Linked DNA regions of Homo sapiens: region 2 is linked to region 1. Evidence: fine-mapped QTL for protein levels in blood plasma. A gene starts in region 1. The other region holds a variant in brackets. All regions are shown on one strand. Distances are from middle to middle.

Evidence for each region. A credible set is the group of variants that fine-mapping cannot tell apart. PIP is the posterior inclusion probability: the model's chance that the variant is causal. Protein levels are from antibody-based Olink assays in UK Biobank. Linkage for the fine-mapping came from a reference panel and not from the study's own genotypes, which makes the PIPs less certain.
Region 2: its variant is the best candidate, but not a certain one, in a credible set for the plasma level of the LRP11 protein (UK Biobank, PIP 0.65).

The regions. Positions count from the first base shown.
Region 1 is chr6:149,857,494-149,873,156 of GRCh38, forward strand. It overlaps LRP11 (LDL receptor related protein 11), which reads right to left and starts at 6,866. Exons shown (of 7, transcript NM_032832.6): 1 at 5,915-6,866. The coding sequence starts at 6,527. RAET1E-LRP11 (RAET1E-LRP11 readthrough) reads right to left here. Exons shown (of 15, transcript NR_182438.1): 6 at 11,369-12,392; 7 at 11,210-11,287; 8 at 7,723-7,851; 9 at 7,392-7,504. RAET1E-AS1 (RAET1E antisense RNA 1) reads left to right here and starts at 6,005. Exons shown (of 2, transcript NR_045126.1): 1 at 6,005-6,889. RefSeq lists silencers at 5,871-6,020, 6,191-6,300, 6,441-6,500, 6,571-7,020 and an enhancer at 6,677-7,177.
Region 2 is chr6:149,820,011-149,835,673 of GRCh38, forward strand. It overlaps LRP11 (LDL receptor related protein 11), which reads right to left. Exons shown (of 7, transcript NM_032832.6): 6 at 6,254-6,349; 7 at 1-693. The coding sequence ends at 539. It overlaps RAET1E-LRP11 (RAET1E-LRP11 readthrough), which reads right to left. Exons shown (of 15, transcript NR_182438.1): 14 at 6,254-6,349; 15 at 1-693. Among named protein-coding and RNA genes, the nearest start is that of RAET1E-AS1, 36 kb to the right of the region's middle. The variant C/T (reference allele first, on the strand shown) is at 7,753.

The sequences.
Region 1 (15,663 bases):
GTCCCTGTGTCAAAAAAAAAAAAAAAAGTAAAAAGAAACAAAGATGGTAACAGCCCTTTCCCCAAATAAGCCCCTTTCTTGCCTGAGGACTGGACTGCCTTTGCAAAACTAACAAATAAGCCACAAGATTAGAAATTATGGCTTAGGCATCACTATTATAAAACCTAAGTTCAGTGCTTGAGATATTTTATAGACCCTGTCCTCGATGGTTGGCAGCACCCCGTTGGCAGTACCTAGGTTGATAAACTGGCTCATCTGGTCTTGTGTTTTATCCGCACAACCAGTTCCTTGTGAATTAAACTCTTTCTCTATTGCAATTCCCCTGTCTTGATAAATCAGCTCTGTGTAGGCAGTGGGCAAGGAGAACCCATTGGGCGGTTACAATTTCCTTGTACCAGGTACCAGGCCAGGTGAAGTTATAGAAAGAACTTAACTTTCACAACGAATCTCTGAGGTAGGTATTATCATCTGCATAATACTGATGCAGAAACTAGGCTCAGAGGGCTAAGTTACATCACACAGGCGATAAATTTGTCAGATCAGATACTTCTTTTTAATTATTTTTTTATTATTATACTTAAAAGTTCTAAGGTACATGTGCACAACGTGCAGGTTTGTTACATAGGTATACATGTGCCATGTTGGTTTGCTGCCCCCTTCAACTCGTCATTTACATTAGGTATTTGTCCTAATGCTATCCCTTCCCTTGACCCCCACCCCGACAGGCCCTGGTGTGTGATGTTCTCCTCCGTGTCCGTGTGTTCTCATTGTTCAACTCCCACTTATGAGTGAGAATATGCGGTGTTTGGTTTTCTGTCCTTGTGATAGTTTGCTGAGAATGGTTTCCAGCTTCACCCATGTCCCTGCAAAGGACATGAACTCATCCTTTTTTTATGGCTGCACAGTAGTCCATGGAGTATATGTGCCACATTTTCTTAATCCAGTCTATTATTAATGGACATCTGGGTTGGTTCCAAGTCTTTGCTATTGTGAATAGTGCCACAATAAACATACATGTGCATGTGTCTTTATAGTAGCATGATTTATAATCCTTTGAATATATACCCAGGAATGCAGCCCAGTTATTTCTAACTCAAAGGTTCTATCCTTCCACTATACTTCGAGACAACCCTAGGTGTATTCCAGTTACAATAAATATAATTTTACATCCTGAATTTAATCCATCAACTTATTGGTATATTCCTGTTATTGATATTTCTTCATATATCTTAGCACTGCCCATGTGATAACCTAAGCTTCACAATTGCCACTTGAGTTTCCTAATCTGTACTACTGGACATTTACTTTGTTACTTTTTCACCATTATAAATAATGCCATAATAAACATGTTTTGCTCATACGTTCTCTTCAGCATAGATGATTTTCCTAAAAAATATTCCAGAAGTATGAATATTTTAATGGTTTCTGCCACATATTTTCCAATTACTTTCCAAGAGGGAAGTACCAATTTACACCATCAGTGAGCTAGAAGTGTATATAAAGTTTCCCATATGCATGTCAATATGAGTAAAACACTTTTTTGCTCATATGTTCTCTTCAGCATGGTTCCTTTTCCTAAAAAATATTCCAGAAGTATGAAATGAATATTTTAATGGTCTCTGCCACATATTTCCCAACTGGTTTCCAAGAGGGAAGTAGCAATTTACACCATCGGTGAGCACAGAAGTGTATATGAAGTCTCCCATATGCATGCCAATATGAGTAAACCTATTTTTACCAAGTTAATAAATGAAAATTGGCCTTATTTACATTTCTTTGATTCTAAGGTCGAACATTTTTCCATGTTTATCCACCATACCTCCTCTTCTGGGAAGTGTCTGCTCATGTCCTTTGCCCATTTATTTTTATTTTTCTTGCTGACTCATATATATATATATATATATTTTTTTTTTTTTTTTTTTGACCGAGTCTTGCTCTGTCGCCCAGGCTGGAGTCCAGTGTTGCAATCTCAGCTTACTGTAACCTCCGACTCCAGGGTTTAAGCTATTCTCATGTCTCAGCCTCCCCAGTAGCTAGGACTACAGGCGTGTGTCAACAAACCAGGCTAATTTTTCTATTTTTAGTACAGATGGAGTTTCACCATGTTTGTCAGGCTGGTTTCTAACTCCTGGCCTCCAGCAATCCACCTGCGTTGGCCTCCCAAAGCGCTGGGATTACAGGTGTGAGCCACTGTGCCTGGCCCATAAACTCTACGAATAAATAATGTCACATTTTTCCCAGACTCTTGTTTGCAATTCCTTTTGTTTCTTGATATGAAGTTTTTTATAAATGTGCATATAATCTATCCCCTTTCTTTGTGACCTCTTTAATTGATTTGAAACCTGTCTTCCTTCCAGATATGGAAGTTTACTTCCTTTAAGTTTTTTTATGTATGGAGTAATCTATGGCTTAATTTAAAAAAAATTTAATTCTTTAATCCATCTGGAATTTGTGTATGGTCAGAGTTGTAGGTCTAAATGTACTTTCCCTGACACTGCCAACCAGTTATCTTACTATTATTTATTAAATATAATTGTTTATAACACAAAAGGGAGAAGATAAGAATGTGAGAAAGTAAGGCCCTTGGAGAGGGAGAGTGGTCAAGCATCTGCAGAGGGATTAACCTTGAATGGGAAGGTCAACTCTTTTGTTTGCACTTGGCGGAGACAGGGAAAGGCTGGGGGTGGCAGCAGGTGGGTCTGCAGAGAGGAGAGCAGACCTCTGCCTAATAGCTTTGATTTTCCCTGACACACAAGGCAAGGGGCCCACTTCCCAAATTCTTCCCCGAGATACTGGACTTCAGGCTGAATATCCAGCAAAAACCACATAAAGGTTATCGTCCTTGAGTCCTTGGAGGTTATATTCCCTGCTCTTCTGGAATCCTAGCAGCTCTAGCTTCTACCTCTCCTCCCTCCCTCCCTCCCTCCTGCTGTTCTTCACTTTTTATCATGACATCCAGTCCCCCAACCCTCTAGTCATGGGCATGACCCAACCAGGTTCCTAGAACAGTATCATGTACATGCGTGCCACCTTCCTAACTCACAAAGCATGTCCCCCCTTGAACCTCACGACAGCCTGGGATGGAGGACAAGCAGACACCAAGTCCTGGGGGCATGAGCAGGGACTTGTTTGTGGAGACGCCAGGCCCCAGAACTTCAAGCACCCTCCTCTGTTCTACAGATTCTAGCAGGCAGGCTCAGTCACTACAAGACACCTCTCTCCAGCATCTCTCACTCATTCCTGCATCCTCCCGCCTTCCCTACCTCTACCCTCGCAGTCCCAGCCTAGTGATCCCTTTCTCAGCTTCTGCTGGTGCTGCTGGAGAAAGCATAGGAGTTCAGGCTCCACAACCCCATGCTGTGTGACCCTTGGGCAGGTTACTTTCGCTTGCCAAGCCTTGTATACACTAGGGATTATAACAGAACCTAGGCCTTTGTGTTGTTGTGAGGACAGAGTGAGTTCATGCGTGCAAAGGGCTGAGGACAGCACCTAACACCAAAGTCAACAAATGTGGGCATGAAAACAGGGCTGGTGTGTCCTGCTGTAAGTTCGTGCTATCCCATCACCATTTCTTCATGGTGCTTTCATCCACCTCAGATGGATCCAGTCACAGCTCCTCTCCAAGGGCTCTTCTAAACCATTTTCACATGCTCACAACCCAAAAACGAACAATTCAAGAAGGAAAAACTTAGTCTCTGAAGCATAAACAACTTCAACCTGTCAAGCATCTGAGCAGGGGACACACAGGACACTGGGGAACAATTTTTGACCTCCACGCAGAGAGAACAAATGAGCCTCTACAGGAACCTGAGCCGCACCTTCCGCGTTTCCATGTTGCTGGGACCTCAGGAAGTCTGAGCACAGCAGTGTTCTCCCAGAAATGAGGACCAGCACCGCGCTCGCCTATTTTCATCCCAAACATCTACAAAACAATTCCTAGACAAACTCCCCTGGGGAAAGGAAGGGCAACGAAGCAAGCAAGAGGAAAAACAACCCAGAAACTTCTCATAGTAACCTGAAGTTTTTGTTTCTGTTTCTGAGGCAGTGTCTCCCTCTGTTGCCCAGGCTGGAGTGCAGTGGCGCAATCTGTACTCACTGCGACCTCCACCACCACAGTTCAAGCGATTCTCCTGCCTCAGCCGCCCGAGGAGCTGGGATCATAGACAGGCGCCACCATGCCAGGATAATTTTTGTGTTTATTTCTTTTTAGCAAAGACGGGTTTTGTCATGTTGGCCAGGCTGGTCTCTAACTCTTGGCCTCAAGTGATTCACCCGCCTTGGCCTCCCAAAGTCCTGGGGTTAGTTATGAGCCACCGTGCCTGGCGTCTCCAAGTAATCTAAACTTTAAAATTTTTGTTCTATGGCATATTCTTTCCTTGTTTATTTTCCTTTTCAAAGGTTTCCTCTGGGTTTATAGGAAAGCTCACTTTGGCAATGTCAGTTTCTTCCAGGTAAGTAGTGAGAACACAGAGAAAAGACTTTGTTTCTTTGCTGCTGGGATATTTTGGTCTGTGTTTGGGCAGAGAGGATGTGTGTGCAACAGCCGTGGTGGGCCTCAGAGATGCTGATGGGGGGTCCAAGTGAAAGTGCTGCCTGCCTCCACTTCAGAAGGAAAGCTATGGAGTCCTTCCCAGTGTTTGCCTCAAGGCCAAGCAGTCGCAGGGTGACCCTTTGATATCTGCTCCCCTGACAAGGATTCTGAGCCTCATCTAAGGTAGAGGTGGGGAGGGAGGCAGGATGTGATGGACACAGATTTCCAGACTCTTTCAATGGATCCACAGGTTTTGGAGAATCCACACTTCCAAAGGGGCTGAGCTCCGCCCCCATCTTGCTGATATCATTCGTGCTATTATAAATCAAACAGCAACAGGGCATGATTAAACACACGGAGCCTGACCACACGTGGGCACAATCAAGGTCTCTTATTCCCTCCGTGACATTCATGTCCAACCACTACCATTTTTGTGCCTCCTGTATGTGTCCTGATTCTCTCATTCAGAGCATCTACAAAAAGTCAAACCGTCGAATCAGCATCATTTTTAGTCCTTAAGAAACACGCTTTAAAGTTTCCTATTTTCTTTTCCTTTTTTTTTTTTTTTTTTTAAGATGGAGTTTCGCTCTTGTTGCCCAGGCTGGAGTGCAATGGCGCGATCTCGGCTCACTGCAACCTCCGCCTCCTAGGTTCAAGCGATTCTCCTGCCTCAGCCTCCCGAATAGCTGGGATTACAGGCGCATGCCACCAGCTCTGGCTAATTTTTGTATTTTTAGTAGAGATGGGGTTTCATCACATTGGTCAGGCAGGTCTCAAACTCCTGACCTCAGGTGATCCGCCCTCCTCGGCCTCCCAAAGTGCTGGGATTACAGGCATAAGCCACCACGCCCGGCCTTAAAGTTTCTTATTTTCAACGAAAATCAAGTCCCCTCTTTTCACTTTTTATAAAAGGGACCAGAAGTTTTCCTCCCATTTTTGTATGATGAAAGCCACCGCAGGCAAAGTCAGGAGAGCCACGTCAAGAAAAAGGAGTGGGTGTTACGAGAAGCCCGGCATCTAATTAGATTTTGCTCTTGCAATTACTTAACACAAACCATGCCTTATACAACCCATGAGACTAAAACAAACTTTTTTCTCTCAGCATTTCTCCCCTTTTAAGTCATATTTCCACGAATCCTCTCAGATCAGCCTTTCTCTTCAAGCCTAGAAAAATTCCAGTAGCACGTCACCGCGCCCGCCCGCCCGCTTCTGCCAAACTACTGGGCTTCCTCTTCCCTAAGACAGAGAAACCCATGCCAGAAACTCTTCTGGGTGCCCGCGGCTAAAATAACTTGGCACGAGTGTGTTTCGCTTCCAACTTGGCGAGGGCGCTGCGGGTCTCGAGCGCTCTGGCCAAGGCCGGCCCCTCAGTCGCGCGCTTACCCTGCCGGGGCGAGGCGCGCGCGGTGGCCAGGGCGGCGCCGTCCGGCGCGCGGCTGAGGCTGTAGCTGCTGTAGCCGCTGTGCAGCGCGAACTTGCAGACGTTGCGGCCGCGCGCCGTGCAGTTGAAGAGGTAGCAGCCGAGCACGGCTGCCGGGGGCGCGGGGCGCCGGGGCAGCTCCACCACGGCCACGGAGCAGCGCGGCTCGGAGCAGCAGGCCGCCACGCATTGCCGCCAGCCCCGCACGGCCGCCGGCGCCCGCAGGAAGCTGGCACCCGCCGCCAGGGAGTCCTTGGTGCGGATGATGGCGTCAGGCATTGCGCTGTAGCCGCCGCTGCCCGGGCCCGGGCAGTCCTCCTGGGGGCCGCCGCCCGCGCGCAGCTCCAGCTCCAGCTCCTCCTGAGGCCGCTCCTGCTGCAGTTGCCGGCGGAACTCCTCCAGCAGCTGCTCCACGCCCGACAGCTGCGCGTGCAGTTCGGACAGCGGCGCCGCGGGCGGCAAGGCCGCACGGCCGCTTGGCAGCCACAGGCAGAGCAGTAGCAGCCCGCGCAGCGCCCCGTGACGCGGCGGTAGCCGGCGCTGCGAGCCCGCGCTCTCCTGGGCGACGGAGGCCATGGCGACGAGAGCCAAGGGCAGCGAGCCGAGGCGGGGCTGAGCGCGGGAGGAAGGCGGGGACGCGGGCGAGCGCGGGCCCTGGGCCCCTCCTGCGCGGCCGCGGCTGGCTCTAGGCCCCGGCCTCACAGCGCGGCGCCCCCGAACCCGGCTGCTCCCCCGAGGTCGCGGGCGCCGGCGGGAACCGCAGTAGCGGGAGACATAGCCGGCCCAGCCGGGCACCGCTCCTTGCCCTCGCCGGAGACTGCCCAGCGCCCTGCGCCTCTCCGCCCCGGCCTGCGGCGCGCTGGGTGGCGACGAGTCGGCCTCGGCGTTGATCAGCACCAGGTGTGTGCGAACAGTGGCCGCGGCGGGGTGGAGCCTTGGTGAGCCCCGCCCCCCCGCGCGGCCCCGCCCCCGCGCGTCTCGCGCCGGCTCCTCCAGGGCTGGGAGAGCAGGCCCCGGGGAGGGCAGCCTCAGAACAACTTTGCTCCCGCGCCGCTGCCCAGCTAGGGCAGGGTTCATGTCTGGGCCCAGCAGGCTTTAGCAACCAACCACACCTGCCCAGGGCGCCTGCCCACAGGGGCTTGGCATTCGGGGGAATGGGGGCAGTGGGAAGGGAGGGCCTGTCTTCAAATCCTCGTGACCCCCGGGACTACTCCAGAGAGGGGGCACGCGCACCTAGGACCACCGTAGCGCGTCATCAGTCCTTCACCTCCAGCGTCCCTGACTTTCCGCATCATGTTCCCAAGATGTGCTTGGGTAGTACAAAGTGGGGCGGGGTTGGGGTGGCGGAGTCAGGGCCGGGAGGGGTGGGGATGGGAAGTACTGAAAGATGTTCAGTCTGTTTAAAAACACAAAAATCAAGCCTGGTGAGGTGGTACTCGCCTGTAAGTCCTGAGGCTGAGTTGGGAGGATGGCTTGGACCCAGGAGTTCGAGACTGCAATGAGCTGTGATCACACCACTGTACTCCAGCCTGGGGGACAGAACAAGACCCTGTCTTTAAAAATAAAAACAAAACCCATAAATAGCAGTCGTCACATGCACTCAGATTTCCACAAATATAACAAAAAATCTGAACACAGCCAACATGGGGACCTGGGAGTAATACAGCCTGTGACAGAGAGGCCTCTAGCGGTTATATCACGTAAAATCTCGGGAGTTGTGCTTTAAATGACATAAGGAATAAGAAAATGTCCAACCCAGTGGGGGCTTCACCTTGGCGTTCTAGACTTCTGTGAGCAGCATCTGCATCTTGTTTGTTTCTGAATCAGTTTCTGTTGATTCATTTTTCTCCTGATTGTGGATCGCATTTTCTTGCTTTTTAGCCTGTCCGGAAATTTTTGCCTGGATGCGCACATTGTAAATAGAACACTGTTAAGTGTCTGTATTTTTTAGGATTGAAAGAATAAATAATTGGTGGGAAAATATCAGTCTCTGCTATGTGTTTATTATCTCCAGAGTTGACATTTAGGAACCCATTGCTTGCAGATCCAGATCAGAGTAGGAGGTAAAATTAAAAGGTAGCAATAGAAAAGAAAGAAAAAAGCTCAATGTTACTTGCCATTCCATCAAAGGGAGAAATTATAAAGTTTTTGCAGGGGTATATTTGAGTGATTTTTGAGGCTAAAAGAAATGGCCTCTTAGCTCTAAAGGCTGTGTCTGGACTGTACCACTTCGGCCTGGAGATTCTTCCTCATATGGCATACTCATCCCACACAACTGCAGTCATTGTAAGATGACCTTGAAGCAACATAATGCTTTTTATTTTTTATTTTTATTTTTTGCCATAGACCTTGGAGAGCTTGAGCAGGATTGTTATGAGGAGAAACTTTCACTAGTGATGAAAATGCTGACTGAGGGTATCATCAAACCCTCCAAGGACTAGTTGTTATATAAGTTATTAATATTAAAAATAACATGATAATATATAATATTAACTAAGAATTGTACATGATTTCAAAGTTTGCCAAACACTTTCACATACATGATTTTATGTGCCTTCACAGAGACTTTGACCACCTCACTCCTGCCTTTGGGACCGTGAAAGAGAAGTCAGTATAGAGTGAGCCCTAGCTCACATGTTCCGTGGTAGGGAAGTGGACAGGGGAGAGGACAGCATTTCTCAGGGGCATTCATTTCTAAATCCCTCCAGCACCATCAAAGATTTTCCTGCATCTGCAACTTTACAATAGGTCTTTTTGGGAGAAGTGGAAATTATTTAATGTTGTGTTTACCGTGAGCAGTGGTTATTTCTGGGCTGTGAGTTGCAAGTACTGAAGGGGAAATACTGACTTTTATAATTTATAAGACTTTGTTGAATTTTTTTTTTGCAATGAGCTTGTTGTAAATGATTTTCTATTTTTTAAAAATAAGTGTTGACATCTGCTTCAGCCAGGAGGGAGCAACAAGGACTGGACTTACTCTGTGACCTGAAATGAAAAATCTGTGAAAAAAATGTATGGAACAATGGTTTTCAGACATTGGGCAACAGGCAATGCAGGGCCCAAGAGAAGGGAGACAAAGGAAGTGAACATGCTGCTTGCTCCAGCTTACTGCCTGGAGAGGGTTTCCAAGCCGCAATGCAGACAGGCGAACCAAAAGAGACTCTGAGTTGGAAAATAGAGCTGAGAATTCAGGGAGGCCAGGGTGGCTAGAGTACCAGAGAGGAGAGAGTGCAACGGAAGGAGGGAGCTCTGGAGATCTGTGCAGGGTTCCTCTGAGTCTTCAGCAGAAGTTCGACCAGGTACATGCATGTGAGGAAACTTCCCAAGACAGAGAGGCAACCACTAGAAAAAAGCTGGCAGAAAAACTTCTGAGCTTGCATTGGCCAGGCAATAGTTCGTTCCCAACAGCCAGAGTGGAGAAACCTTGTGACAAGAGGCATGAGTTTGAGTAGGAAGGGAAGGGATTACAGAGAAGCACATGAAAACTTTTGCAGGTGATAGGTGTGTTCATTACCTTGATTGTGGTGATGGTTTCACTGGTGAATACATTGATCAAAGTTCATCAAATTGTGTATTTTAAGTGGGTATAGTCAATTATATGTTAATAAGGCTATTTTTTAAAAACGAAGTTTCATTGCACTGTGCATTGTGATTTATCTTCTTTTTCTAGTTCTCTTTTCAGTTTTTTTCAGAAATAAACTATCTTTGTTTTAAAAGCCTAAACATCAAAACCTTATCAATGGATAGAAGAATTTTTATGTGAGGATGAAAATGTCAGGAAGATGTGTTTCTGTTTTATAAGATAGATCATTAAGAGTAAGAGTGGATCAAATTGAGATTGGACTTCGTAGGTCAGTTTGTTGAATGTTGGAATGAGATAACCTGTGTCTTAGCTGGGCTGCTGTAACAGAATACCACAGACTGGGAGGCTTCTAAACAACAGAAATTTATTCCTCACAATTCTAGTGGCTGAGAAGTTCAAGATCATGGTGCTGGCAGACGCTGATATCTGGTGAGGGCCCACTTCCTGGTTCATAGACAGCAGTCTTCTCACTGAGTCCTCACCTTGTGGGAGGAGTTAGGGAGCTCTCTGGGATTTTTTTCTTTTCTTTTCTTTTCTTTTTTGAGACAAAGTCTCGCTCTGTTGCCCAGGCTGGAGTTCAGAGGCACAATCTCTGCTTACTGCAACCTCTGCCTCCTGGGTTCAAACGATTCTTCTGCCTCAGCCTCCTGAGTGGCTGGGATTACAGGCGCACACCACCACGCCTGGCTAATTTTTGTATTTTTAGTAGAGACTGGGTTTCACCATGTTGGTCAGGCTGGTCTCGAACTCATGACCTTATGATCTGGCTGCCTCAGCCTCCCAAAGTGCTATGATTTCAGGCATGAGGCACCGTGCCTGGCCTGGGATCTTTTTTATAAGAACACTAATCCCATTCATGAGGGCTCCACCTTCATGCCCTAATCATCTTCCAAATTCTCCACTGCAAACATCATCACATTAGGTTTCAACATAGGAATTTTGGGGGGTTACAAACATCCAATCTACAGCAACACCCTAGTGACATCGTTTTTTGTTGCCCTCCCCTCCCCTCTACTGCCCATCTAAGTACTTTTACAGGCATCGAATAAGTTAAGTCAGTGCATGTGAAGTGCTTAGAAGGGCATCTGACACATTATAGAAGTTCAATAAATGCTAGTTGTTGTTGTTATTACAACAGAAATGAAGGACCTTTCCTAAGATTAGAAGTCATGAAACCACTTGAAGCCTGAATCTCCTCTACAACATCCCAGCTGAGTGGCTGTTGCACTAAGATTCTTCCTTCTCCATACCCCTTTCATGGAATCTGCTCTGCTCACGTCCCTGGAAGGGGCAGCCCCAACCCCCAGGTGGCCACACCCCCTGTTCACTAGGGATGGAATCAATAATGAATGCCTGGCCCAAGCACAGCCAATCAGATACTCTCTCCAAGGAATGTAAAAACAGAATTGAGAAACAAACTGACTCAGCAAATCAACTCAACAAACTGACTCAACAAATTGAGTCAGGGAGGGAAGTGTAGCTGGGAAGCCAGGTGAGCTCCAGGGGACATGGAAGGGGATGATAGCAGAGAGAAGCTGTTCAGCAGAGGGGGACAAATGGAACCGTGAAAAGAGGAAATAGAGAACAGTGCATACATAGCCTTGAGAGAGGGAGGGAGTGAAGACAGGAGTTGCCTGACACTTTCTGGTCTCAAATCTCTCCCCTGAGCACCTACTTGGCCTTCTACCTGGAATTCCTCTCATGGAGTTCTTGCCTTGCAGCTCAGTGATCTAGGTTCATCCTAGTTAAATCTCTGTGGATTGCAAACAACAGAAACTCATTTTAGATTGGTTTAAAGAAAAAATAGCTACCGTGTTTACACACATGCACTCACAGGCAGGGAGGAAATGCAGCCAGGCCTTGGGAGGGCCTGGACCAGACATGGCAGAACCCTCAGCAGTCAAGCAGCTGGTCTCCCAGTTGCTGCTTCTCTCTTCTGGGACCAAGTAGTCTGAGATCTCCACTTCTCTCTGCACATCTGATTCATGCTTCTCTCAGAGTCTGGAGTTTTCTGCCCTCCATGCACAGAGCCTGAGTCTATCTCACCTCACCTGCAGCAATGAACAGAAACTCAGAACAGTGACCATCAGTACCAAGAGAGAGACTCTGATGAGTCTAGCTTGGTCCTGTGTCCACCCTAAACTGAGGTTAGTGTGCAGAGACCATGAGGCACAAACAGGGCTACAAACATGGCCTTCCCTCTCCTCATTGAGGATGGAAAGAGAGGCCGTTCTTAGAGGAAGGACGTGGTAGTAACTGGGGAAAATCCTGAGAAGTTGTCTTCTGCGTTGACTCAGGCAATGCCCCATGTCTGCTTGAACATGTTCATTAATTTTCATTTTAAATTTAAGAAACGCTTATAAAAAGTACTGTGCTACGACTACCAGGAACCGTTCTGAGTTCTGCACAGTCACTTATTTACTTAAAACAACAATTACGCAGCATGTGCTAGTATTACCCCCAATTCACAGGTAGGGAATGCAATATTTTGTTACTGAAACACCAGGGGTTCAGTTTAGGTCCTGTTGCTTGCAGCACAGAAAGCCAATCACTGGATCAAGTATTTTTGGGGGAAGAAGGCTTTCTTTGGTGCTGCCAAATAAAGATAAGTGGAGATAAGTCTCAGATCTTCGACCAACTTAAATTGGGGTGTATATAGTGGGGAAGGAGTGTAGCTACCCACAGGAAAACAGGAATTAAGGAGGGGTAAGGAAGAACAATTGGTCAACGGGAAGCAGATGGTTGGTTAGGAAAACAGGAATTATGGAGGAGTAAGGAGAGGAGTCTGGTGTCTCGTTATCTGGATGTGGTGATGTGAGTTTTACTTCCTCGATATTATCTGGAAGTCGGAGGGTTTCCTGAAAAAGGAATTCAGATAAGACAAATGTAAGTTTTAAGCATTAAGAAAAGCAGGGTCCATTTCTAGCTTTAATAGGAAAAAAATGGCAAACATCAGTTCTCGGGGGAAATTGAGCTAGTTTCACCTTCACACACCAAAGCTCCTTCCATCTTTGGGCAACTCTTACTATTCATTAGAATGTTTTCCTTATATTCAGTTACAATCTGTTTTGTAGCTTCCAAGTATTTGTCCCAGTTCCTTCTCTTGGGACCACTCAGAGCAACCTACACCTACTCCCAAGTGATAGTCCTTTAAATAATTTTAAAATGCCATTGAAGCTCAGGCAACTCAGCTTGCTTAGTACAGCACAGTGTTGAGTGTGGCTTATGACAGCAGTGTCAAACACCTGCTGGCTGTGTGACTTTGGGCAAGTCACCTACCCTCTTCAAGCACCAGATCACCCCGCCGTAATATAGGAATAATTGCCTCACCTTGCTTCCCACAAGTGTGGTGAGGATTAAGTGAAACACAGCACATAAAGCACTTAGCACAATGGCTAGTGCGCTAAAGGCTCCTAAGTGTTAGCTGGGATCATCCCCTCTCAGTTCATCGATTCATCACATCGTGAGGCTTGCAGATCTCCATTCTGTCATCTAACCTGTTTTCTATCCCACCTGGCTTTGTTATTGTTGCGTTTTTCAGCATTACTGAGGTATAACTGACAAATAAAAATTGTAGGCTGGAGCAGTGGCTCACGCCGGTAATTCTAGCACTTTGGGAGGCTGAGGCGGGCAAATCACGAGGTCAGGAGTTCAAGACCAGCCTGGCCAACATAGTGAAACCCGCATCTCTACTAAAAATACAAAAAAAAAAAAAAATAGCTGAGCATAATGGCTGGCACCTGTAATCCCAGCTACTCGGGAGGCTGAGGCAGGAGAATCGCTTGAACCTGGGAGGCCCAGGTTGCAGTGAGCTGAGATGGTGCCACTGTACCCCAGCTGGGCAACAGAGTGAGACTCCACCTCAAAAAAAAAATTGTATGTATTTGACAAATATGACATGACCATTTTACGTACATATATATTGTGTATGATTACCACAATCACATTAATGAACATATCCATCACCACACACAGTTACCATTGTGTGTGTTGTGTGTGTGGTGAGGGTACTTAAGGTCTACTCTTTTAGCAAATTTCAAGTAAACAATACAGTATTATTAACTATAGTCACCATGCTGTACATTAGATCCAACTTAACATCTTATAACTGAAAGTTTGACCAACTTTAAAGTTTGACCCTTTGAGCAACATCTCCCCCAGCCCCTGACAATGACCGTTCTATTCTCTGCTTAAGTTTGACTTTTTAGATTCCAAATGAAGAAAAATCATATAATATTTTATGTTGATGTCTAGCTTACTTAAGTAGCATAATGTCCTAATGTTCTCCAGATTCACCCATATTGTCACAAATGGCAGGATTTCCTCCTTTTTATGGCTGTATAATACTCCATTGCATATCTATCTGTATCTACATCTATCTGTGTATCTATATCACATTTTCTTAATTGGCCTGTCAGTGAACACTTAGGTTGTTTCCATATCTTGGCTATTGTGAACAGTGCTGCAATAAACATGGGGGTACAGATATCTCTTGGAGATACTGCTTTCAGTTCGTTTGGATACATACCTAGAAGTGGGATTGCTGGGTCATATGTTAGCTCTGTTTCTAATAGAACTTTTTTTTGTACTGTTTTCCATAATGGCTATACCAATTTACATTCCCACTGACAGTGTGCAAGGGTTCTCTTTTCTCCACACACTCACCAACACTTGTTATTTCTTGTGTTTTTTTTTAAATGATAACACCACTTTAACAGATGCAAGGTGATATCTCATTGTGATTTTGATTTGCATTTCTCCGATTATTAATAATGTGGAGCACCGTTTTATGTATTTGTCACCCACTTGTAGGTTTTCTTTGAATAAAATGTCTATTCGTGTCCTTTGCCAGTTTTTGAAAAGCAGGTTTTGTTTTTGTTTTTGCTATTGAGTTATATGAGTTCTTTCTGTGTTAAAGACGAACATTGGATATTAATTCTTTATCAGATACATGGTTTGCAAGTATTTTCTCCCATTTTGTGGGTTGTCTTTTCACTCTGTTGATTGTTTCCTTTATTGTGCGGAAGCTTTTTAGTTTGATACAGTCCCAGCTGTTTATTTTTGCTTTTGTGTGCTTCTGGTGTCACATCAAGAAAATTATTACCAAGACCAATGTTAAGAAGCTTTTTCCCTATGTTTTCTTCTAGTAGTTTCAGTTTCAGGTCTTACATTTAAATCTTAATACATTTTGGGTTAACTTTTGTATAGGTTGTAAGATAAAGGTCCAATTTCATTCTTTGGATGTGGTTACCACTTATTCTCAATACCATTGACTGAAGAGACTATCCTTTCCCTATTGCATATTCTTGACACCCTTGTCAAAATTAGTTGACCATATATGTGTGGGGTTATTTCTGGGCTCTCTGTTCTGTTCCACTATTGGTCTATATGTCTGCATTGATGCCAGTACCATACTGTTTTGATTACTATAGCTTTGTAGTATAATTTGAAATCAAGAAGTGTGATGTCTCCAGTTTTGTTCTTCTTTCTCAGATTGCTTTGGCTATTTGAGTTCATTTGTGGTTCCATTTTTTTTTTTTTTTTTGAGATGGAGTCGTGCTCTATCACCTAGGCTGGAGTTCATGGCATAATCTTAGATCACTGCAACCTCTGCCTCCTGGATTCAAGTGATCCTCCTGCCTCAGCCTCCTGAGTATCTGGGACTACAGGCGTGCACCACAACGCCTGGCTAATTTTTGTATTTTTAGTAGAGACGGGGTTTCACCATGTTGGCCAGGCTGGTCTTGAACTCCTGACCTCAGGTGACCAGCCCACCTCAGCCTCCCAAAGTGCTGGGATTACAGGCATAAGCTATTGTGCCCAGCCTTGTGGTTCCATTTGAATTTTACGATTGTATTTTCTATTTCTGTGAAAAATGTCACTGGAATTTTGATAGGGATTGTAATGAACCTGTAAAACATTTTGTGTAGTATGGACATTGGAACAATATTAATTCTTCCAATCCATGAACACAGGATATCTTTCCTTTTATTTGTGTCTACTTTAATTTCTTTCATCAATGTCTATATTTTTCAGTGTACACACCTTTTACTTCCTTTGTTAAATTTATTCCTAAGTATTTTATGCTTTTTGATGCAATTATAAATGTGTCTTAATTTATTTTTTAGA
Region 2 (15,663 bases), 37 kb before region 1:
TAAGGTTTATAATTTAGGTATACCCACCCTAAGTAACATCTGATTGAAGGCATGAACTTGCTTGAGATCCACTCTCAGAAACAGGTTTAGAGGGGAAAAGAAAAAGAATACTGGGAGCTTCAAGGAGGAAGAAAAGGGCCACAGAACAAGGGGAAGCTGGGCCTATAGCAGTCCAGCATGGTAAGGGGCCAACAGTTGGCTTCTAAAAGGTAATGGGTTAACACAGTCATCCTAATACCACCTCCTGAGATGCTGAATTTTCTCTCAGCTAAGTACACATTTCTATTTTCAGGGACAGCTTACATAAATCAGAATTATATTTTTAGGAATCTTTAATCATGAATTCCTCTCTAAATTTCAAAATATTTTATGACTTCTAAGGAAACTTTTTTTACAATAAATAATAAAGAAAGATTTGGGATTTGCAGAATCTTCTGGCCCAATTAAAAACAAAAGAAGCTGTAAATATCCAGAACTTAATAGATGTATAAATTATAAACAAAACATGTCCCTGCCCCAAGGTATTGAAATTACATTACTATAGATACATCCCATTTATGAGGTAGTCCGATTCCTCAGATGTAATGGGACGAGCTTTTTTCAGTTTCTGTTTCACCAGTCGTAGTCGGCATGCAACCATGAGAAGCAGCAGAGCAGTGATAGCCAAACCCAGCGCCAGGGGTAGCACTGCACCTTTGAGAAGGTTAGACATGAAGAGGGCAAGCCAGTGATTAGTCACAGTGACAGCTACTGGTCACTATATGATACGCGCTTTGCATGCACTATTTTATTTAATCCAAACAAATTGTTATTAGTATTATCACTATTTTGCAGATTAACTAAGGTGTACCAAGGTTAAGTAATTTGCTTATTTGCCTAGGAGGCTGTAAGTTGTAGGTTCAGGTCCCAAACCTAGACTTTTTTTTTTTTTTTTTTTTGAGATGGAGTCTTGCTCTGTTGCCCAGGCTGGAGTGTAATGGCTCAATCTCGGCTCACTGCAACCTCTACCTCCTGGGTTCAAGCGATTCCCCTGCCTCAGCCTCCCGAGTAGCTGGGATTACAGGTGCCTGCCACTGTGCCCAGCTAAATTTTGTATTTTTAGTAGAGATGGGGTTTCAACATCTTGGCCAGGCTGGTCTCAAACTTCTGACCTCGTGATCCACCTGCCTCGGCCTCCCAAAGTGCTGGGATTACAGGCGTGAGCCACCGTGCCCGGCCAACACAGACCTCTTTAAAACCAAATTCTCTACCAGCTTCCTACAAAATTTGTATGGCATCAATGGGTACACATACTACCATCTGATCACTCATATCCAACTGAAATAGGCATTCTGATCACGAAATTTTTTTGTTGTAGTCATTGACTATATTTATGAATTCATACATGATCATTCTTCAACTAAGTATGAACTAACTCCTGATTTCTTGTTCTAGTTAGGGCTTAAGAAATTTATTTCCTTCTAAATCCAGGGAACTGACTCAGTCAGTAGAACCTTTGTTGAAAACTAACTTCCAAATATGCTGGTGTGATTTTGGACATTAAAGGAAAACATTTCTTTAGTTTTTCCTGTGAGGTGGATTCTAGACACCAGAGTAGAAGTAGCGAGGCTTGCAGGAGTCTGGAAGGACAGGGTGTGCCAATATCAGTCTTTTTTATCAAGCTTAGCAGGCTCTATTTTTAGTCTGATCTACTCTGTGGCCAGGCCAGGTCTGGAGATTATATGGTGGAACTGTTTTTAGCTGTAGGGATCTTGCCAACTGGTAGAACTAGAGGAGAAACATCTCCTTTGTGTAGGCTCATTCTATACCATTTGCTCTCATTTATTCATTCATTCTGCATTCATTAAAAGCCTTCTTCCATGTGCCAGACACTGAGCTAAGTGCTGATAATCCTTTTATTTGTAAATAAATACCACCCCCCTCAAGATAAGCTAAGGCCAAGAATACCAGCTTTATAGCTTAAATCACTGAATTCTCACAACCACCACATAAGTTGGTGCTATTATTATCCCCATTTTACAAATGAGGGAGCTAAGGCATCAACAATGAAGTGAGGGCCAGGCACGGTGGCTCAGGCCTGTGATACCAGCACTTTGGAAGGCAGAGGTGGGCAAATTGCTTGATCCCAGGAGTTCGAGACCAGCCTGGGCAACATGGCGAGACCTTGTCTCTACAAAAAATTATTAGCCAGTTGTGGCATGCACCTGCAGTCCCAGCTACTCGGGAGGCTGAAGTAGGAGAATCACCTGAGCCCAGAAAGTTGAGGCTGTTATGAGCCATGATCAGGCTACTGCACTCCAGCCTGGGTGACAGTGTAAGGGCCTATCTCAAAAAAAAAAAAGAGAAGTGAGGCTGGGCACAGTGGCTCATGCCTATAATCCCAATACTTAGGGAGGCTAAAGCAGAAGGATCACTTGAGTCTGGGAGGTAGAGGCTTCAGTGAGCTCTTAAACTGTACTCCAGCTTGGGTGGCAAAGTAAGATCCTGTCTTAAAAAAAAAAAAAAAAAAGACTGAAGTGACTTGTCTAAGATTGTTAAGTGGTAGAGCTAGCAAATAACCCCAGACAGGACAGCCCCAGAGCCTGTGGTTCTATCCACTATGGTACTCTACTTCTACAAAATGTAAATGAGACAGTTTTTGAACGAGTAAGTCTGGGTAGACAGACATTTAAATGGGAAAAAATGCAACAAAGTGTTATACTTACTATGATAGAATTATAGATGAAGCATAGTTGTATTAATAAAATAGGTGGTCCATCTACCTGGTCTGTAGGATTTTTGCCTGAGTGATTTTGATGTATGATAGAGACTGTTGGGTGGCTGAAGGAGGTAAGTTTATTTTTTGACATTTTCAGATTGAGATGCCTATCAGCGATCAGGTGGAATTTTCTCTTAGGCTTTTGGATTAGCTGGGCCTAAATATGTGGGAGCCTTTAGCATAAAGGTGGTAGCTGCAGTCACAATAGGGGTTAGGACAGCCAGAGAGAAAGGAAGAAGAAAGGTGAGCCAGGAACGAGGTCCTGGGAAACACCAGCATTTAGAGGGCAGACAAAAGCAGAGGACCAAAAAAAAACAGAAGAAGACCAGTCAGAGAAATAGGAGGACAACCGCTATAGTAGGGAGTGGGCTTTTGGAAGCTGAGGAAAGAGACGTCCAAGAAGAAAGTCCTCAGCTGAATCAAATGCTAAGGAAATGTCAAGTGAGGTGAAGCCTGGAGAGCCCCCTGGATTTAGCAATTGGTAATTCATTTATGGGAGTACAGAAGATGGAGGATGCTACTTTGTTTCTTTACACATTAAGAAATCTGAACATGATCACAGTCAGGAGAATGAGCCAGTAAAGAAACAGAGATGAAAAACACGGGAGAGCTAGGAGATGATGAGAAATGAACCTGAGGAAATCAGGGGCTTTAGCCAGATCAGGGAGAGACCTTGGAAAGAGGCGACACCTCTTCCTTTAGTACTGGAGGGGAGGAAGAGGGGTGAATGCAACCAGATGAGTTTTTACATTTGGGGGGCAGGTAGCTGAGGAAGTTCACTCCAGACAGTCTTGATTTACTGGGCTTAAAACTGGTCCCAGGTATAGCTGGCCGCCTCTTGAAGACAAGAGGACCTGGAGCTGATGACACACTCACGGCACTTGAACTCTGGTGTATTTTTAGAATCCCAGGTAAAACTCCTGAACAAGATTCTCAAGAACAGTTTGAAAGTGTCTGGTTGCCGGAGGAGGGGATGGGAAAGCTGCTTTAGAGACTGTTAGGTATCAAACAAAGTTCTGGAAGAGGCCAGCATTCCTCCAGAGAATTGTGAAAGATACAAATCGGTGATAACCCTATGGACTGGAATTGGATTCTACGGCTGTCTCATTCCATACACAGCAGTTCTGGAGGTGTCAAGATGGCTGCCTGGTCTCTCCATGCCAGCAGTTTGGGGCTTCAGTAGCTACTACTGCCTCCTAGTCTCCACCTGATGAAAGAAGTTCTGACAAGGCTAAGTGGCCCCAAGGTGTCATTCTCCCTCCACCTTCCTATAAGTTGCATATGTTACAAAGGAACAGGACAAAAAAAGAGACTTTGGTCAATACCCACAGAAAACCCCAGGAACCCCAAATCATTTCTCATGAATTGGACCGCAACACCCAGCCCCAGTCCGGGGGACTTGCTTAAAGATGAGCATCAGCATTTAGGCTAAAGGGTTATGAAGCTGTGGTTGAAGATGCCAATCCCAATGCCGGGGCTCAGGTTTAGCTATGGTAACAATAAAACAGACGAGATCTGGGAAAATGTTCTATTTGCTAAGTCAGATATGAGGCTGCTGAACTGTCTGATCTGATTCCTGTTTAATGCTTTTATGACAAGGAAAATGAAATCTCCCAAAAGTACTTGCCAGAATATTGAAAATTATTCTTGACTTTTAATATTTAGTTGGCTTAGTTTGGATAATTTGAGATTTACAACTTTCTAGCTCCTTCTAAAACACACCATGATGCTATTCTCAGTAACCAGCTAGGGTGATGAATTATGTATTCTGTTCATATGAATGGGGGTGACATTTAAAATATGTAACAGGCTGGGCACAGTGGTTCACACCTGTAATCCCAGCATGGTGGGAGGCTGAGGCAGGAGGATCACTTGAGGTCAGAAGTTTTGAGACCAGCCTGGCCAACATGGCAAAACCCCATCTCTGCTAAAAATACAAAAATTAGCCAGGTGTGGTGGCATGCACCTGTAATCCCAGCTACTAGGGAGGCTGAGGCAGGGGAATCGTTTGAACCCGGGAAGCAGAGGCTGCAGTGAGCTGAGATCGCGCCGCTGTACTCCAACCTGGACAACAGAGTGAGACTCGATGTCTCAAAAACAAAACAAAACAAAAATATGTAACAACCAGAATAGGCAACAGCCAACTAGAGCTGAGACTCTCTGGATACATATGTGTGGGGAGGCAAGAGGCAGGCTGGTTTCCCTCTTCCCTTGATAGGGGACAGGGCCCCTTTTATTCAAATATCTTGGGACAGGCTAAGTCCAGGAGGCCAGCAGACCAAGGGGGTCACCCAGGTACTTGACATCTGGAGTATTCTTAGCTATCTATTGTTTAAACATTATATTTTAATATTGTCCTGATATTATAAATAGGGTAAAAAGAAAGTTTTCTCAATGTTTATAACTTAAGCTTATATTTTGTTCTTCTAAAGCTTCTTTTACTAGTTTGTGGGATTTAAGACTAAAGCCTGCCTTTCTAAAGGATGGTTTCCAAAGTCTTTTCTTCCTAGTTAAAATCAACCAAAATTAAAGAAATTATTGTATTCTTCTTCCACTTAGTAAATATTCTACTTCCTACACCCTTCCCTCATTTCTGTTGTTTTCTGTCTTTGTCACTAGGGCACTTGGAAAGAGAACTAGGTATTCTAAGACCTTTACTCTTCTTTCATCGTAAATAACTGAGTAATAACTGCCATCGTTTCTATATTTGGCTCATCATATGAGCCACACAGTGCATTCAATGCTTGAGATTAATTATCCCATATATTCTTCTCAGCAACCCTATGAGGCAGGTATTGTTACTATCCTCATCTTACGAATGAGGAAACTGAGATCCAGAGAGATAAGATAGCCTGCTCAAGGTCATACAGTTTAGTGGGTAAGTGAGAATTTTTTTTTTTTTTTTTTGAGACGGTCTCACTCTGTCACCCAGGCTGGAGTGCAGTGGCACAATCTTATCTCACTGCAGCCTCGACCTCCCAGGCTCAAGTGATCCTCCCACCTCAGCCTCCCTGGGACTACAGGCGAATGTCACCACACTTGGCTAATTTTTGTATTTTTTGTAGAGACAGGATTTTGCCATATTGCCCAGGCCGGTCTTGAACTCCTGAGCTCAAGCGATCCTCCTGCCTTGGCCTCCCAAAGTGCTGGGATTACAGGCGTGAGCCACTGTGCCCAGCTTTGAGCAAGGATTTGAATTGTGGCATCTGACTCTAAAGCTTGTGTTCTCCCACCATGCCACAAGTATGACATTTTCCACAGGTGTCACACCTGGAAGGGTGTATAGAAAAGGCAGCTGAGGTCCAAAGATGGAAGGTTACTATCAGGAGCCCCAAGACGCAGTGCAATACAAGCAACGAGGAGACAGTTCTTTCGGTCCACTGACGGACTCCTCCTGTCCTGAGCTCTCATGGCCTCAGGGAATATCCTCAGCCAGAGGGCATGCAGTTCTGAGAAGACTACAGTCTGCAAAGGGTTTCCAAGGTGGACATTTACCTGTTTCTGGGGCTGGGTGTTCCCCTCCTCCTCCATCACCCTTTGACTCAAATATATAACTTTCCTCTTTTCTGTTCTTCCCTGAGGAACTACTATCTGCAGAAAAGAAAGAGAACATATATTGAAGGTGTATGCATCAGAAACTTCAGGAAACAAATGTGAAAATACAGCCTTATTTTTTTTTAAGATGGACTTAGAGAAGAACTGTTTATTTCTCTACTAAACAAAGGCCTATGTTTGATAGTTAAGCAGTAAATAACTAAGGTGACCCACTGAATAAAGCAAAGTACGCAGCTAATACGAAACCACCGACAGAGAGAGCGGAAGACACACCCTGCACCGAACTACCACCACGCCTCTTGGAGAAGGGAGATCTCAGGCTAGAAGAGTCACAGGGAGTCTCCGGATATCACGCCATGAAAAGCAGAAACCAGAAAGGTTTTTCTTTGAAGAATAAACAATGGGCATATATAAGGCATTTAGACATGCTCTTTCTCTTTCTCACAACTCTGGATGGCAGGTATAAATAGCTCAATTTTCTTTCTGGTTAGGCTCAGGGTCAGGTTCGTACCTAGGTTCACACAAGTAAGTGGGTCACAGGGCTGGGATGCAAACTGGTTTCTTGGTAGAGACCAGTACTTCTAATTTAATGATATATTACTTAACTATTAAGTTATAATACTGAGGGGGAAATTATTATTATTTATTTACTTTTTTTTTTTTTTGAGACAGAGTCTCTGTTGCCCAGATTGGAGTGCAGTGGCACGATCTTGGCTCACTGCAACGTCCACCTCCTGGGTTCAAGCAATTCTCCTGCCTCAGCCTCCCGAGTAGCTGGGATTACAGGTGCGTGCCACCATGCCTCGCTAATTTTTGTATTTTTAGTAGAGACGGGGTTTTGCCATGTTCCCCAGATGGGCTCAAGTGATCCGCTCACCTCAGCCTCCCAAAGTGCTGGGATGACAGGCGTGAGCCACCATGCCCAGCCTTAAGTGGGATTTTTGAGTATTACAATGCTTAATGGCAATGAATTAGAAATAATCTACTGACAAATTTTATTGAGAAAATTTTTAAAGCTTCTTTACTCATATGGCATCAACATAAATGTTCCTAATTCCTGCAAATGAAATAAGACTATTTAAAGGTAGTATATAAAATTCTTTGGTAACTTGCATTTTGCAAATTTACTAAGTCACAAAGTTGGCCAGGTGCACTGGCTCATGCCTATAATCCTGGCACTTTGGGGACAGTCTACTGTGTCTTGTTACTCTAGAAAGTTCCATGTATGTTGGTCCTACATACAGCCAATAATTTGGGCTTTCTCCATAAACTCTGAGCTCAGACAGAAGGAGAGAGATGAGGAAAGCACAGCCATTGCTCATAGGCTGCAGGATCAGATTTCCCTGCAAAAAGAGTTCTGTTACTGTCCAACTCACTGCAGTAGCCACGACAGTGGTCACCAAGGACCTCTCCAGCTACCTGGATTCTCTTATATGATA[C/T]CTGATCCCAGGCCAGGTAGTTCTATAAGATTGTATTACATAAGGGCCGCACGCAGTGGCTCATGCCTGGCCAACATGGCAAAACCCTGTCTCTACTTAAAATACAAAAAAAATTAGCCAGGCATGGTGGGCGCCTGTAGTCCCAGCTGCTGGGGAGGCTGAGGCAGGAGAATGGCGTGAACCCTGGAGGCGGAGCTTGCAGTGAGCCGAGATCGCGCCACTGCACTCCAGCCTGGGCGACTGAGCAAGACTCCGTCTCAAAAAAAAAAAAAAAAAAAATTAGCCAGGCATGGTGGTGGGCGCCTGTAATCCCAGCTACTTGGGAAACTGAGGCAGGAGAATCACTTGAACTTGGGAGGCGGAGGGTGCAGTGAGCCAAGATCATGCCACCGCACTCCAACCTGGGCAACAGAGACTCCTTTTCAAAAGAAAAAAAAAAAAGATTTTATTATATATGATTCTGGCCTAGGAAGCTATACTAGAAGTACTGTAAACATCTGCTGACATAGGAAAGCACTATTTAATACAGAAAAATAAGACCATGCAGCTTTTTTATTTTATTATATTTTTACTGCTAGTAGACAGACCAGAGTGCAATTTTTGTGGCAAGTAATTTTTACACTTTTTCTCAGGGGTGAGGTAGTTAATAGGTACATATTTAACCACTGCTTTTATGGTGCAAATCTCATGGTGTTGATATCCATATTGAAAATATGAGTATGTTTTATTTTCTTTTTTTTTTTTGAGACAGGGTCTCCCTTTGTTGCCCAGGCTAGAGTGCAGTGGTGCAATCTCAGCTCACTGCAGCCTCGACTTCCCAGGCTCAAGTGATCCTCCCACCTCAGCCTCCCAACTAACTGGGACTACAGGTAAGCATCACCACACCTGACTAATTTTTCTATTTTTTTGTAGAGATGGGGTTTTGCCATGTTTCCCAGGCTGGTCTTGAACTCCTGAGCTCAAGCAAGCCTCCCGCCTTGACCTCCCAAAGTGCTGGAATTGCAGGTGTGAGCCACAGCACCTGACCTAAAAATATGAATATTTTCAATAGCATTTTGAAGGTTCAATGTAAGCCTTGTTTAGATTACTACAGAGACTCCAGTGAATGTTCCTGAGCTTTTGCTTGGTAGAGATATAGAAAACATTACTGTGTTTTAAAGTCAATAATGCCTGATTTTTTCAAATGCCAGTTGCTCGTGGATCTCCAAAAGAAACACAAGATTTGTTCTGTAGAGATATAAATCAGTGATATGCAAAACAGTCCATCCAGCAGCCGCACACACAAAACTAGCAGCCCTGAAACAGCTTGGAAATCAAACTGCTAAGTTACCTAAAAACCACTTGTGGCACTTCTCCCTTCATCCCTTTCCTCCTCCCCCATGCCGTACTGCCAGGTTAGCTTGCAAAGGAACTTCTATGCATTCTGCTTTATCTCTCTCTCCAATAATAAATTTGGAAGTGGGAAGATCACATGGTGGGAAACTCAAGTCCTACTTTTTAAAAATAATAAGCCAGGGCCTGGGCATGGTGGCTCACGCCTGTAATCCCAGCACTTTAGGAGGCCAAGGCAGGTGGATCACTTGAGGTCAGGAGTTCGAGACCAGCCTAGCCAACATGGTGAAACCCCATCTCTACTAAAAATACAAAAATTAGCTGGGAATGACGGCACACGCTTGTGATCTCAGCTACTTGGGAGGCTGAGGCAGGTGAATCGCTTGAATTTGGGAGGTGGAGGTTGCAGTGACCCCAGACAGCGCCACTGCATTCCAGCCTGGGTAAGAGAACGAGACTCCATCTAAAAAAATAAATAAAATAAAATAAAATAAAAATAAAAATAAAATTAAAAATGAGCCAGGAATAAAAACAAAGTGCCAAAATTCACCAACTCCCGATTTTTTTCAGAGGACTAACTGGTTTGTCTTTCACCCAATAAAAAAAATAAGATAACTGCATTTACAGTGTTCACCTCACTGTTTCTTCCCAATGAAGATGAGAGCTTGCTCATCTTAATTCTTAAAGGAACTCAGTACTGGAAACACTACTGCACTATTTCTATTTTTTATTTGAATTAACTGCCTTATACACTTGGCGCTCTCTTACCCTGGTTTCCTAGCGAATACCACTGGACTTGAATGTTCTAGCAAAAATTCAAACAGCACTAACATTTACTGAGAGACATCAATTATATTTACATATAATATCTCCTGCAATCTTTGTAGCCATATTATGAGAGATTATTATCCTCTTTTTTTTTTTTTTTTTTTTGAGACAGAATTTCACTCTTGTTGCCCAGGCTGGAGTGCACTGGCGCAATCTCGGCTCACTGCAACCTCCACCTCCTGGGTTCAAGCGATTCTCCTGCCTCAGCCTCCCGAGAAGCTGGGATTGTAGGCATGCACCACCACGCCTGGCTAATTTTTGTATTATTAGTAGAGATGGGGTTTCTCCGTGTTGGCCAGGCTGGTCTCGAACTCCCTACCTCAGGTGATCCACCCGCCGTGGCCTCCCAAAGTGCTGGAATTACAGGCATGAGCCACCGTGCCCAGCTGAGATTATTATCCTCTTACAGGTAAGGAAATGAAGTTTAGAGAAGTTGATTACTTAGTAGCTAGTAATTGGTGGTGCTGGAATTAGAACCCAGGACTGATCCAAAGCAGTTTTCCATTGAACCATACTGCTCTCAAGGTCACAACTAGCAAATACGAGTTTTTTACTCCAAGAACCAAGTCAATACTATATTTATTTACTCATACCCAGGCAAAATCACACACTTTTAAATGATTTTTAGGAAGGTTCTGGACAAAGCTTTATTAAGGATGCAGTAGAGAAATTGGCTAACTGTACTTGCAAAAGGGACCTAACCTCACAGGTGGGTTCATGTAAAAAACTATGCAAATTCTTTCTGAATCTTCAGTTGTCAAAATTAAAGAGCACTTTCTTTCTTTAAGAAAAATTTTTTTAAACAGCATTTTCTTAAATGCCCTTATTCCCTGGGGAGAGGAAGATGGTGATGTAGGGAGGGATCAGGTATCAGGCAGCGGGCAGTGTGCATGGGAGACTTCAGAAGGCGCAGTTGCCCCAGACTCTAGGATTACCCAGGAACCTGGCCCTGCCTTCTGGGTAACTGAAATGTGAATTTCTGCTGTTTACATTCCATGAAGGAATTCCCTATGATTTCCCAGTCTGCCTGATTCATTTTTCCTAGATTTCAGCATAAGGAACGCCATAGAGAAATGCTTCACTTTCACACATCCAATCACAGGCTCTAGCCAGTGTGGCGAATCGAAACAAAACAAAACAATGACATCACTTGCTTCTGGAAATAGTTACTTTTGGTAATGATCCTTCTGGAAGAGTTACATGTCTTAGGAGACCATTTTTCCTTTCTTCTGAATGTATTATGTTTACTATGCATGGCGACACATTCACAGAGGGAATTGGCAGCTGGATGGAAGCTGTTTTCATTTCATTTCCAGCTGCCATAGAGCATGCAGGCATGATCCGGAAGAAATACTTTAACATGCCCAGGAATTCTCAAGTTTCAAAAAGCAGATTCCACGTGAATGTGGATGTAGCACCACTTTTCTAGCCCTTTGTAGGGCTGGAAACCAGATTTCTTTCCTCGGGGTAGCTTGGATACAAGAGGGTGGAATTGTTAATGAATGACATGGACCACACAGAGAACAGGCCCTACGGCTATGACCATGGTCAACAATCCAGCCATTGTGCCTTTACATGCTGAGCAAACACAGGCCACACTGGAGCTCTGTGCTCCTCCTGCCCGGTGGCTCAGAGTGTACTGAGCATGCATTCGCTGGTGTAACTGAATGTCTGCACATACCTTCATTTTATCCTCAGTAACCTGTGTGGAATAAATCCCCAAAAGTGGGACAATTGGGTCAAAGCACACATAGTTTTGTTTTAGAGATGAGGTCTTACTCTGTCACCCAGGCTGGAGTACAGTGGTGGGATTACAGCTCACTGCAGCCTCGACCTCCCAAGCTCAAGCAATTCTCCCACCTCAGCCTTTCAAGTAGCTGGGATTACAGGTGAATACCACAAGCTGATTTCTGTAGTTTTTGTAGAGATGGGGTTTTGCCATGTTGCTAGGGCTGGTCTAGAACTCCTGGCCTTAAGCAATCCACCTGCCTTGGCCTTCCAAAGTGCTGGGATTACAGGTGTGAGCTGCTGCACCCGATCATATACATAGTTTTAAGCCTTCAGAAACTGGCCTCTGGAAGGACGTACTAATTGCATTGCTACCAGCAGAGTGTGAGACTTGTTTCTCTCTACTCTTAGAAACATTAATTATTATAATTCTTCATCATTGTCAATGTGATAGGTGAAAAACTACATCTCACTACTTTGCATGCTACACTGTTAGTATTAATCTTAGTATCTTGTTAACAAGTCTTCCATGAGCTAAGTCTTTTTTTTTTTTTTTTTTGAGACTGAGTCTCACTCTGTCACCTGGGCTGGAGTGCAGTGGCGCAATCTTGGCTCACTGCAACCTCCGCCTCCTGGGTTCAAGTGATTCTCCTGCCTCAGCCTCCTGAGTAGCTGGGATTACAGGTGCCTGACACTACGCCCAGCTAATTTTTTGTATTTTTAGTAGAGATGGGGTTTCACCATGTTGGCCAGGCTGGTCTTGAACTGACCTCGTGATTTGCCTGCCTCGGCCTCCCAAAGTGCTGGGATTACAAGCATGAGCCACCGCGCCCAGCCGAGCTAAGTCTTATTTGTCCTCACCACATGTCTGTGCAGGAAGGAGGCAGCAGTGAATTTAACTCATTCATATTTATTGTACTAGCTGATGGTCTTCTTAAAACCCAGGCATGTGTCATGAACAACAATGTACTTTTTTTTTTTTTTTTTTGAGATGGAGTCTCGCTCTGTTGCTCAGGCTGGAGTGCAGTGGCGCAATCTCAGCTCACTGAAAGCTCTGCCTCCTGGGTTCACACCATTCTCCTGCCTCAGCCTCCTAAGTAGCTGGGACTACAGGTGCCCGCCACCATGCCCGGCTAATTTTTTGTATTTTTATTTTTATTTTTTTATTTTATTTTTGAGACGGAGTCTTGCTCTGTCGCCCAGGCTGGAGTGCAGTGGTGCGATCTTGGCTCACTGCAAGCTCCACCTCCCGGGTTCACGCCATTCTCCTGCCTCAGCCTCCCGAGTAGCTGGGACCACAGGTGCCCGCCACCACGTCCAGCTAATTTTTTGTAGTTTTAGTAGAGACAGCGTTTCACCATGTTAGCCAGGATGGTCTCGATCTCCTGACCTTGTGATCCGCCTGCCTCGGCCTCCCAAAGTGCTGGGATTACAAGCGTAAGCCACCGTTCCTGGCCTTTGTATTTTTAGTAGAGATGGGGTTTCACCGTGTTAGCCAGGATGATCTCGATCTCCTGACCTCATGATCCGCCCACCTCGGCCTCCCAAAGTGCTGAGATTACAGGCGTGAGCCACCGTGCCCGGCCAATAATGCACTTTTAAATCTACTTATGGGTCTTTAACTTACATGAAATCAGAGGCTGAGGACTCTACTCTGGTGGTCTTAGGGACAGCAGAGGGGGAGGGCAGGGACAGCTACTGTCTGAACAGAAACTACAGGATGTGAGGGCTCTTTCTAACATTTTCAGTTTTGTTTTTTTCTTCCCACTTTCTTCACCCCAGGACTTTCAAAAAGTGTGTTTTTGATGAATAGTTAATAATACATGAAAATGCTCATGAGTAAGAAAAAAGTTTTATAAAAGCATTATCCTGCTTTTGTTAAAAATGAATAAATATGTATATGTGTATGAATAGAAGTAACCAGAAGAAAATGCGACAAAATTTTAATGGTGAGTTTTGCTAGATGCTTTTAACTTTCTTTGTATTTTTCTATATTTTCTACAGTAAATCCATATTATTTTAATAATTAGAAAAAGCCCTAATATAATAACTGTACATCTAATCTCTCTGCATCTGTGAAAGACCACTCTTTACATCTTCATAACCAAATCCAAAGGCTGATTATCAAAAAGCAAAAGGAGAGATCATAAATAGATTGGAAATTGGGTGCTGACTCCCATCAGCCGCAGGTGGCAGCCTGGAGCATTATTTTCTTTTTTTTCCCTCCAACTTCTAAGTTCCGGGGTACATGTGTAGGATGTGCAGGTTTGTCACACAGGTAAACGTGTCATGGTGGTTTGCTGCACAGATCATCCCATCCCTAGGTATTAAGCCCAGCATCCATTAGCTGTTCTGCCTGATGCTCCCCCTCCCCCTACCTCCCACCCTCTGACAGGCCCCAGTGTGTGTTGTTTCCCTCCATATGTTCATGTGTTCTCATCATTCGGCTTCCATTTCTAACGTGAGGACATGCAGTATTTGGTTTTCTGTTCCTGCGTTAGTTTGCTGAGAATAATGGCTTCTAGCCTGGAGCACTATTTTCAAAAGGATTCTGAGCTAAGTCCACATTCCCCATGGGACAGTGCTGGGACCAATGAGTGACACCTAGCATGGGTAAGGGCTGATGGGGTAAAGTATGAATGTCAGCCTATTTATCATTCCTCAGTGCTGGACAGCACCTTGGAGGACATCTGGTTGAAGTCCCTTATTAACAGATGAGGCAACTGAGGTCCAGAGATATGAAGTGACTTATTCAAGGTTCTAAAGGTAGAGCCAAGACCTGGGCTTTGGTCTCGACTCTACTTTCAGCTAATTTGTTCATGCTCACGTGGTTCTCTCCACCACAGTAATGTGGTAGGAATTCATCCATCCTGGCCTCTGATAACACAGATCTCTCCATAAACTCTTCACCCCTTCGGCAGTCCTGCCAAAGATGCCTGGTCTGCCCAACTCTGTTTCTTAGATTGTGATGCTCTTCTCCATACAAACTATCTTAAGCAGAGAAAACCCACTAAAACCACATCCAAAGGCTTGCATGTAGTGACCGATTTTACCAGTAGGTGGCAGTACCAACCAGGAATGGACCAAAAAAGCAGACACTTGGCAGCATTCTTAACCAAAACTCAGAAAGAAAAGCCCCTGATAGAATGCAATGTTTTGCAGACATATTTTTATGGAGGCACTTAAAATCTACAAGGCACATAAACAAGAGTGGAAGGAAATATAACAAATATTAAAAGCAGTTTTCAAAAGAGGTGGTATTTTAAATTCACTTTCCTTCTTAAATTATTTTGCATCTTCCGTATCTTGTACAATGAACAAAAATTTTTCTTAATAAACTTACTAAAATCATGTCAGGTTATTTCAATACAACTTATGCAGAGTCTGAAAAGACATTAGAAAAGCTTTTGGAAATGTGATAATCTCTATTTCTGTCTCATGTCACATAATCATGCAAATAATAAGTGTGTAAAAAATGATGGAATCCTGTAATACTTATTGATTGACTGATTGAGACAAGGTCTCACTATGTTGCCCAGGCTGGTCTCAAACTCTTGGCCTCAAGCAATTCTTCTGCCTCAGCCTCCAGAGTAGCTGGGATTATAGGTGAGTCACTGCATCTGGCTAAATTCTGTAATGCTTTAGTCATGTTAATGTATTTTAGGCCAGGTGCAGTGACTCACACCTATAATCCTAGCACTTTGGGAGGCCAGCCGAGGTGGGCAGATTGCTTGAGCCCAAGAGTTCAAGACCAGCCTGGGCAACATGGCAAAACCTTGTCTCTATAAAAAATACAAAAATTAGTCAGGCATGGTGGTCCCAGCTACTACGCCTATAGTCCCAGCTACTCAGGAGGCTGAGATGGGAGGATCATGTGAGTTTGGGAGGCTGAGGCTGCAGTGAGCTGTGATCGCGTCACTGTACTCCAGCCTGGGAAACAGAGTGAGACCCTGTCTCAAAAAAAATAAAAATAAATCTCATTAGCCTTACTTTTTTTAGTGATAGATTTAGTTAAATTGGAGG